2 linked regions of the Homo sapiens genome follow. The protein of the gene in region 2 purifies or fractionates together with the protein of the main gene of each other region. This does not show direct contact. Each region holds a gene or a part of one and is shown on either strand. Other genes may lie near its edges.

Region 1 (3,651 bases), on a different chromosome or scaffold from region 2:
AATGGCTGGAACAAGTGCCAGTCTTGGTCAGCCATCCAGGATTTTCATCACAGCAAATCAAAATCTCCAATTTTTCAAACTAATTGTAGGTAGAAGAGAGAGAATAACTCCAAACTGTCTTATAAAAGGATCTAGATGACTACTGAAGTGTCCTCCATTCATGAGTTGGCAAAATCTTCAGAGTGACTGTTGGAGCAAGGAGCCTTTCATGTGCTCCCAGTTATTATATAGTGCATAGAGGCTGGTAAGTGTTAGTCCTGTCAGACCACCTCGTGCTATCCCTCGAAGACCACCTGGGAAACAGAGACAAAAGGAAAATGAAATAGCTGTATATTGCATAGTGCCCTAGCACGATAGGGTTAAATAAAAAGTACTGTGAAATGGGCTGGGCACGGTGGCTCAGGTAATCCCAGCACTTCGGGAGGCCGAGGTGGGTGGATCGCTTGAGGATAGGAGTTCAACCAGCCTGGCCAACATAGTGAAACCCTATTAAAAATTCAAAAAAATTGGCTGGGTGTGGTGATGTGTGCTTATAGTCCCAGCTACTTGGAGGCTGAGGCAGGATAATCACTTGAACCCAGGAGGCTGAGGTTGCAGTGAGCTGAGATCATACCACTGCATTCCAGCCTGGGCGACAGGATGAGACAAGTGAGACTCCGTCAAAAAAAAAAAAAAAAAAAAAAAATACTATGAAATGGAGAGACCATTTTAAAAATAAATCAATATTCCATCTCAAAAAGGAGACAACGTTTTTAAAGTAATACCACTTGTGTAATACATATGACTTAACATTTTCATATTCATAATTTTTTTCCCCCTACTTTCCAATTTGTTCCTATGGCAGTTTATTACGGAGTTCCAACTAGAACAGTCGTTTCCTGCTAGTAATATGATTTAGAACTCCACTAGCACTGTCAATGGATTTAAGTCTGTAATGTAAACAAGGTGACACCCTATTTGGAAAGAGTATTAACAACCTTTGGACTCTGGATGGGTCCTCCAAATATTAACCTTGAAGATTAGTGACGGCCAGGCATGGTGGCTCACACATGTAATCCCAGCACTTTGGGAGGCTGAGGCAGGCTTGAGCTCAGGAGTTTGAGAACAACCTAGGCAACACGGCAAAACCCTGTCTCTGCAAAAAATAGAAAAATTAGCTTAGTGGGGTGGCATGCGCCTGTGGTCCCAGCTATTTGGGAGGCTGAGGTAGGAGGATCGCTTGAGCCCAGGAGGTCGAGGCTGCAGTGAGCTGAGATTACACCACTGCACTCCAGCCTGGGTGACAGAGTGAGAAAGAAAAAAAAAATGTGGTAAGATAGCTATAATCACACTTTGAGTTAGATGCTGGTGACCACCCCCCACTTCATGCACTGACGCATCAATCTCCCACAATTAAAAAACAGTGAGTGACACCTAGCATCATGCTAGTTGAAAAGAACTCAAGAATTACAGATATTGAACTACCTGCTTGATAACAAGTGAACAATTTTACATGTGGCAAAAGATTAGCAACAAGGATTTCACTTGCAATGGAGAAACAAAAATATTTCAATCGGTTACTTAAAAATAGTCCCCAAGTGTAAATAAAAGGAAGCTACAGATAAATTTCTCAAAATAAAAAGGCCTAACTGCTTATGGTTATAAAATGTTAGTCTTACAAACGTAATGTGGCAAAGAGAAACCAAGCTACAAAACTCCTCAGGAATGGGGGTGCCCAAAGCAGCTTTTTAAAAAATGTGAAGTCCTCAAGCAGCTCCATGAGTAGGGATCATAAACTTCAGGTAGCCATCTTTGTACCTAGAGTGTATTTGTTCCAAGTCATGTGTTAGGGAGACAGAGGTAGAGCGGAGTTGTGGGGGTGGCTAGAGGCCCTTTTAGCTCCGTGCCTGTCAATTCTGTGACATTCAGTGATGTTGCTGAGTTACAACATTTCAGAACTAACCATTTCTGCAACGAGCGTCCTACCAGATGGCTTCAGCTGATGGATTAAAGGGCCACTCCCCCTCCAGGAATCTCTCCAGTCTGAAGACTTCTGATAGCTGACCTGCTTACGTTCTTCTTAGTTTTCCAATGCTAAGTGTCATAATTATCTCTCTCAAACAGAAACTGCAGACATTATCTATAAACAGCTGTCATGTAGGGGGACCAAAAACATTTTTAAGAAACCCAAAAAAACCCCACTAAAAGTATAACATGAGGTATCTCCTTGAAGTTCACATCATCTCTTTGTGAACTTGCCATATTCAGACTGTAGGCACAGCAATTAAACTTCCAACTGTATTCAATGTGGTTGAAAAATTGTACTAATTGGAAAATAGTGTATACTCAAAATAATCTGTTCAGTTTAATAAGGATCGACCTCATGTCTCTGCCTAGTAAATCAGTAAAAAGCTGCAGAGCTGAAAGTGAACTAGACCAAATTCCTAATGTGGAAAAAATAAGCCATGAGGCACAGGAGAATAAATGCTAAAGGTATCTGCAACAGCATTGCTATCGCTCAGTTATTAGATCTAATTTTGAGTGTAATAAGGATTCTTCCAAGCAGGTAGCCAAAATGTAGTAACTCAAAACCCCATTCTGAATGTAAGACCAAGCAATAGCCAAGGTGCCCTCACTGCTGTTTGTCAGTGGAAAAATGCTGGTGGGCCGGTAATTGAAAACACAATACTTTTGCAGACACTATTTCCTATAACCACACATTCAACTTCAGATTAACTCCCCTGAACCTATAAGTCAATAATCCACAGGACTGTGAAGTCAGTCCATGGGCTTTGGAAAGAGCTGCAAAACCACTGCTTCTAGCTGGTTCTTTGCTTTGTGCATTCTAAGAACATGGTATCTACTTGGCCCTTGTGGAAGGATTCTCACATTAGTTCTCAGCCATCAAATAACAAGCTTCCCTGGGAATCCTCTTTGGCATATGCACTAGGGGTAACATAGTGACAGTGGAATCTATAAGGCTTTAAGATACTTGGGGGCTGGACGTGGTGGCTCACACTTGTAATCCCAGCACTTTGGAAGGCCAAGGTGGGCGGACTGCTTGAGCCCAGGAGTTCAAGACCAGCGTGGGCAACATGGTGAGACCCCATCTGTTGCGGGAAGTCAGGGACCCCAAACGGAGGGACCGGCTGAAGCCATGGCAGAAGAACATGGATTGTGAAGATTTCATGGACATTTATTAGTTCCCCAAATACTTTTATAATTTCTTATGCCTGTCTTTACTGCAATCTCTAAACATAAATTGTGAAGATTTCATGGACACTTATCACTTCCCCAATCAATACCCTTGTGATTTCCTATGCCGCTGTCTTTACCTTAATCTCTTAATCCTGTCAGCTGAGGAAGATGTATGTCGTCTCAGGACCATGTGATAATTGCGTTAACCGCACAAATTGTAGAGCATGTGTGTTTGAACAAATATGAAATCTGGGCACCTTGAAAAAAGAACAGGGTACCAGCAATGTTCAGGGAATAAGAGAGATAACCTTAAACTTTGACCGCCAGTGAGCCAGGTGGAACAGAGCCATACTGTTCTTCCTTCAAAAGCAAATGGGAGAAATATCGCTGAATTCTTTTTCTCAGCAAGGAACATCCCTGGGAAAGAGAATACGCGCCTGGGGGTATAGGTCTATAGATGGCCCCCCTGGGTGT
Region 2 (3,751 bases):
AGGGCTGGCAAGCACCCCTATGCAACTCTCACAGATTTGAGGGAGGGGCCAGAATAACACCCGCATGGTGAAAGGTGGCATCCCAGGAGCATTCCTAGTGTACCTGGAGGTTAACTTGAAGGCCCCTGCAAAAATAGGTGAAGAGGAACCTTTCATTGTAAACTTCTGACGATAGTGGTTAAGAGGCATACTTGGAGTTTTCTCACACTCAAAAAAACTCAAACCAAGTGATTTTTATCTCAAATCTACCTCTCCAGATGGTTGGTGAGGATTCAATGAAGTGTTAAGTTATGCATCAATTTCAAAAGAGTCAGTTTTGAAACCTGTGGTTCTCCAAGCTCTAAAATCCTAAGCTATTTGTCCTAATGACACAGCAGACTGAACTCTAGAATACCACAGGAATATCACACCACTGCAAATTACTAGGTGGTGCTGAGTCTCCCAAAACACAGAAGTGAAACAAAAGCATTGCACTGTTTTTGAAATGCATATTCGATATGGACTAATCAAATAGGTTTTGAGATTATTTTCCTGGAGGCAGAATTATTCCGCACGGTTACACAGCCCTTAGTTTTCCCCTTTGTTGTATCTATCTATGTATAAACACATGGCCTATATAGTAGGCTATTTTCCTCTCGCTGAAGCTTCTGAAGACAAGGCCTTTTTGTCAAGGGTAAGTGCAAAACCAGTCAACCTTACAAAAGGAGTCATTTAATGCTCAATTTTCCAACTTTCCTATGATTAAACACTTCTAAGCTCAAACGCTGTTATTGTAATCTAGATGGTGTTTTCTTTCCCCCTTCCCCAACAAATGTTTAAATTGTCTCCGCTGGATTCCCCCATCCCCAACTCCCCCCTACCCCCATCTGACCTTGAAAACAGAGAAGTTTTCCTTTTCTCTACTTACCCTAAACTATTTAAAAATGGAGGCCCTCTGACCTTTTTACAACACTCTTCTTGTCTGACACACCAAATGTTAATCTGAAAGCCAAGAGGAGGGAAAAGGTCTTGCAGGGCGGGGAGGGGGTTGTGGAAAGGGGGTGGAGGTACTATATATTTGGCATCAGCTCAGAAATTCAGAAATGTTTGTGCAACCACTCCCCCAGCCAGGATCCTCCCCCACCCCCCACCCGCAACTGCCTTCTAACACATTAATAAAAAAAGATGTGAGCAGACGAAATTGGAGAGCCCAGGAGGGACAGCTAAGGCGGTCATGATTTTGTACCCAGGCAAGACCACTGATCACCATCCCACATGTCCACCCCTCCTCCCTCCCTTCCAACGTGCCAAGTTTAGGATTGGGACCTCTGCAGCTTCCACCCCCATCCCCTGAGGTGGCCCGGTAAACTTGCGGCAGTACCACCCATTAACAGCTTGTGTGAGGCAAACGGAAGGACTGACACAGCAGCCTCTGCGCGTCGGGACAGCAGCGCTGTGCACCTTAAGAATCGTTTATGTTCTTTAAAAAAAAAAAAGAAAAAAAAGTGCAATGAGCGCACAGGCCTGGAATACATTAACTTGTGAACCGACTCTATCACAACTCGAGAGAGTCCGTCTCTCCCTCAAACAAAAAGAAGGTGGGGGCGGGGGAGAAAGGCCAAGGCACATTACCATCCTGTCCCGAGCTTTCCAGATACTCCGTCAGGTCACAGCCAAACGCGCTGGCGGCTCCCTTTCGTTTCAGCTTCTGCTTAGCACCCTTGTTCTTCATGAGTTAGTCCCAAAGAGGCTGCCCCTCCGTCTCTGCCGCCCCTCTGCTTGGCACCGCTGTAAGATGGGCTCCCGGGCTAGATCACCGGCTGCCCCGCGGCTCTGGGGGGCCGCATCGGAAGATGGAAGAACTTGGGCTGGGGGCCCTGCGCATGGACCCCGCGGGCCGCGGGCCGGCAGAGCCTGAGATCCACCCCGCGCCGCTCCGGGGCCGCCGTGCCGAGGCCGTGCAGACTGGCAGCCGCGGGCCGGCTCGCCTGGGAGTGTCACTTCCTCACTTGGAGTCCTAGGGACTTTCACAGGCTCCTGCGGTGTCTTCGGGTGTTTCTCCTCAGCTTAAGAGGGAGGGCAAGCTCTCCCCACCCCTTACTAAGTGCCCCGGAGACGACGCGGACGCGGGGCGAGGAGACTGCCCAGGGGGCTGCGGTGGGTCCTGCGCCCTGGGCCCGCTGTCTCGCCTTCAGACGACTTTGGTAGAGCGAAAAACAAGCATCCTGTCGCTGCTGCCCGCCCTCACGCCTTCCTTTTTTTCCTGTCTTACAAATCCTAGGATCATCCAGCTCAGGAAATGCTGGAAGGAAGTTAGCTAGGGAGGGGGGCGGTGGGTGGAAATTTTTGGCAGCTCGGTGCTTGTGAGTGTGTGGAGCTAGAGGAAGTAGGTGGGTGGGTTGAGGAGCACGGGGTTGGGGTAGAGAACGCGTTCTCCCGAGAGCAGTTCTGCGACTCCAGAGATAACTGGGCAGCCCCGGAGGAAATCGCGCTCTTCTCGCAGGACCCGCAGCCGCAGCCGCCGCTTCCTGCCCCGCCGAGCCGGCTCTTTGAAGTGGCGGGAGGAGGTGCGCTGGCATTCTGCGGGGACCGTGCTGGTTGGGACTTTCAGAACCCTCTGCCCTGGTTTTATCCTCATTGTCATCGTATCTTTGACACTTTCTATTTCGGTGCCCGCCTGTCTGCTACGCAAATACTTAAAGAGTAATGACAGAGACAAACAGGGGACTCCAGCGGAGAAACCTGACAGGCAGTGGCTTCACGCCGGCCACTCCCATCCCAACCTCCTCTGCAGCGTTCGTGCACCCCCACCTCAGCTCACTCCCCTCCCACTCTGGGGTAAAGATACCCCTGGGCAAAGAGAGGCTGCAGCTTTGTAACCACTGCCCAGGAAATCAGATTTCTGGTTACATATTCAAGACACACACACACACTACTGCAAAGTTTTCTAAATGGAAGTGATTTGGGGGGGACAAACCAGGATTTAAGATGCCTCTGACACATGAAATGTGAAGAAAGCAGTCTCCCAGGTTCTTTCATAATTTGTTTCAAGTTGTTTCAAGAGGGCATGTTTTTTTCTTCTCCAGTTAGATTTTAAATTCTTTAACTTCTGTGTACTCAGCACACAGAAAGCACTCAAATTCTTGTGATTTAACCATTTGAGGATTAGATGAAACTTCCTGTATAAATTCAAATCCATATACAGGCTTGAAGGATAGGGGCATATGTCATACAGCTCAGATTGCTGGCAAAGCTGCATCCGTAGCATTTTAGGTACTGAATCCCTTTACAGTCACTGTCTCTCTATGTAACCTTAACAGTCTATGAACTTTGACCCTTGACATTTTCTCTATGTCAGAGGTCACAACTTGATAGCCACCCTGCCAGATCTGGCCCATAGATGTACTTGGCTGGCAGACACCATGCTTTAACACGTTTTAAAATTAGTAGCTAGCATTAAAAAGTTAAGAGATTTCACATAAAATCTGAATTTCTGGCTTCTCTTGAAAAAATGGAAGATCTAGTTACACCACAAGTGCATTCCCATATGGCAAGGACGGCTGATGCTGAGTTGTGGCAGGCCCCTTGGAGGCACCCTCTTTAGAGAGACGACTCTTGCAGTTTTGCAGACCCCACGGCCTGTCTTCCCCCTTTTGCACCTGCCTGGCCTCTGCTGCCACTTGAGTTTGCAGCCCAACCTCTATGAATTGTCTTTCCTGTTTTTCATTTTCCATCTCTCAGTGACACTGAGAAGCATTTGCCCCAGTCATCT

What was found.
Region 1: the proteins of ARHGAP31 (region 2) and TIMM23 purify together in Homo sapiens (affinity purification with mass spectrometry; one large-scale study listed by BioGRID and IntAct). This does not show direct contact.

Annotation. Positions count from the first base shown.
Region 1 is NC_000010.11:45,999,845-46,003,495, reverse strand, and holds part of TIMM23 (mitochondrial import inner membrane translocase subunit Tim23), read right to left. Parts: intron 1,136-3,651; exon of another isoform or gene 1,012-1,135; intron 294-1,011; coding exon 178-293; 3' UTR 1-177. UniProt on the Homo sapiens protein: Essential component of the TIM23 complex, a complex that mediates the translocation of transit peptide-containing proteins across the mitochondrial inner membrane.
Region 2 is NC_000003.12:119,292,865-119,296,615, reverse strand, and holds the start of ARHGAP31 (rho GTPase-activating protein 31), read right to left. Parts: upstream 2,234-3,751; 5' UTR 1,712-2,233; coding exon 1,612-1,711; intron 1-1,611. UniProt on the Homo sapiens protein: Functions as a GTPase-activating protein (GAP) for RAC1 and CDC42. Required for cell spreading, polarized lamellipodia formation and cell migration.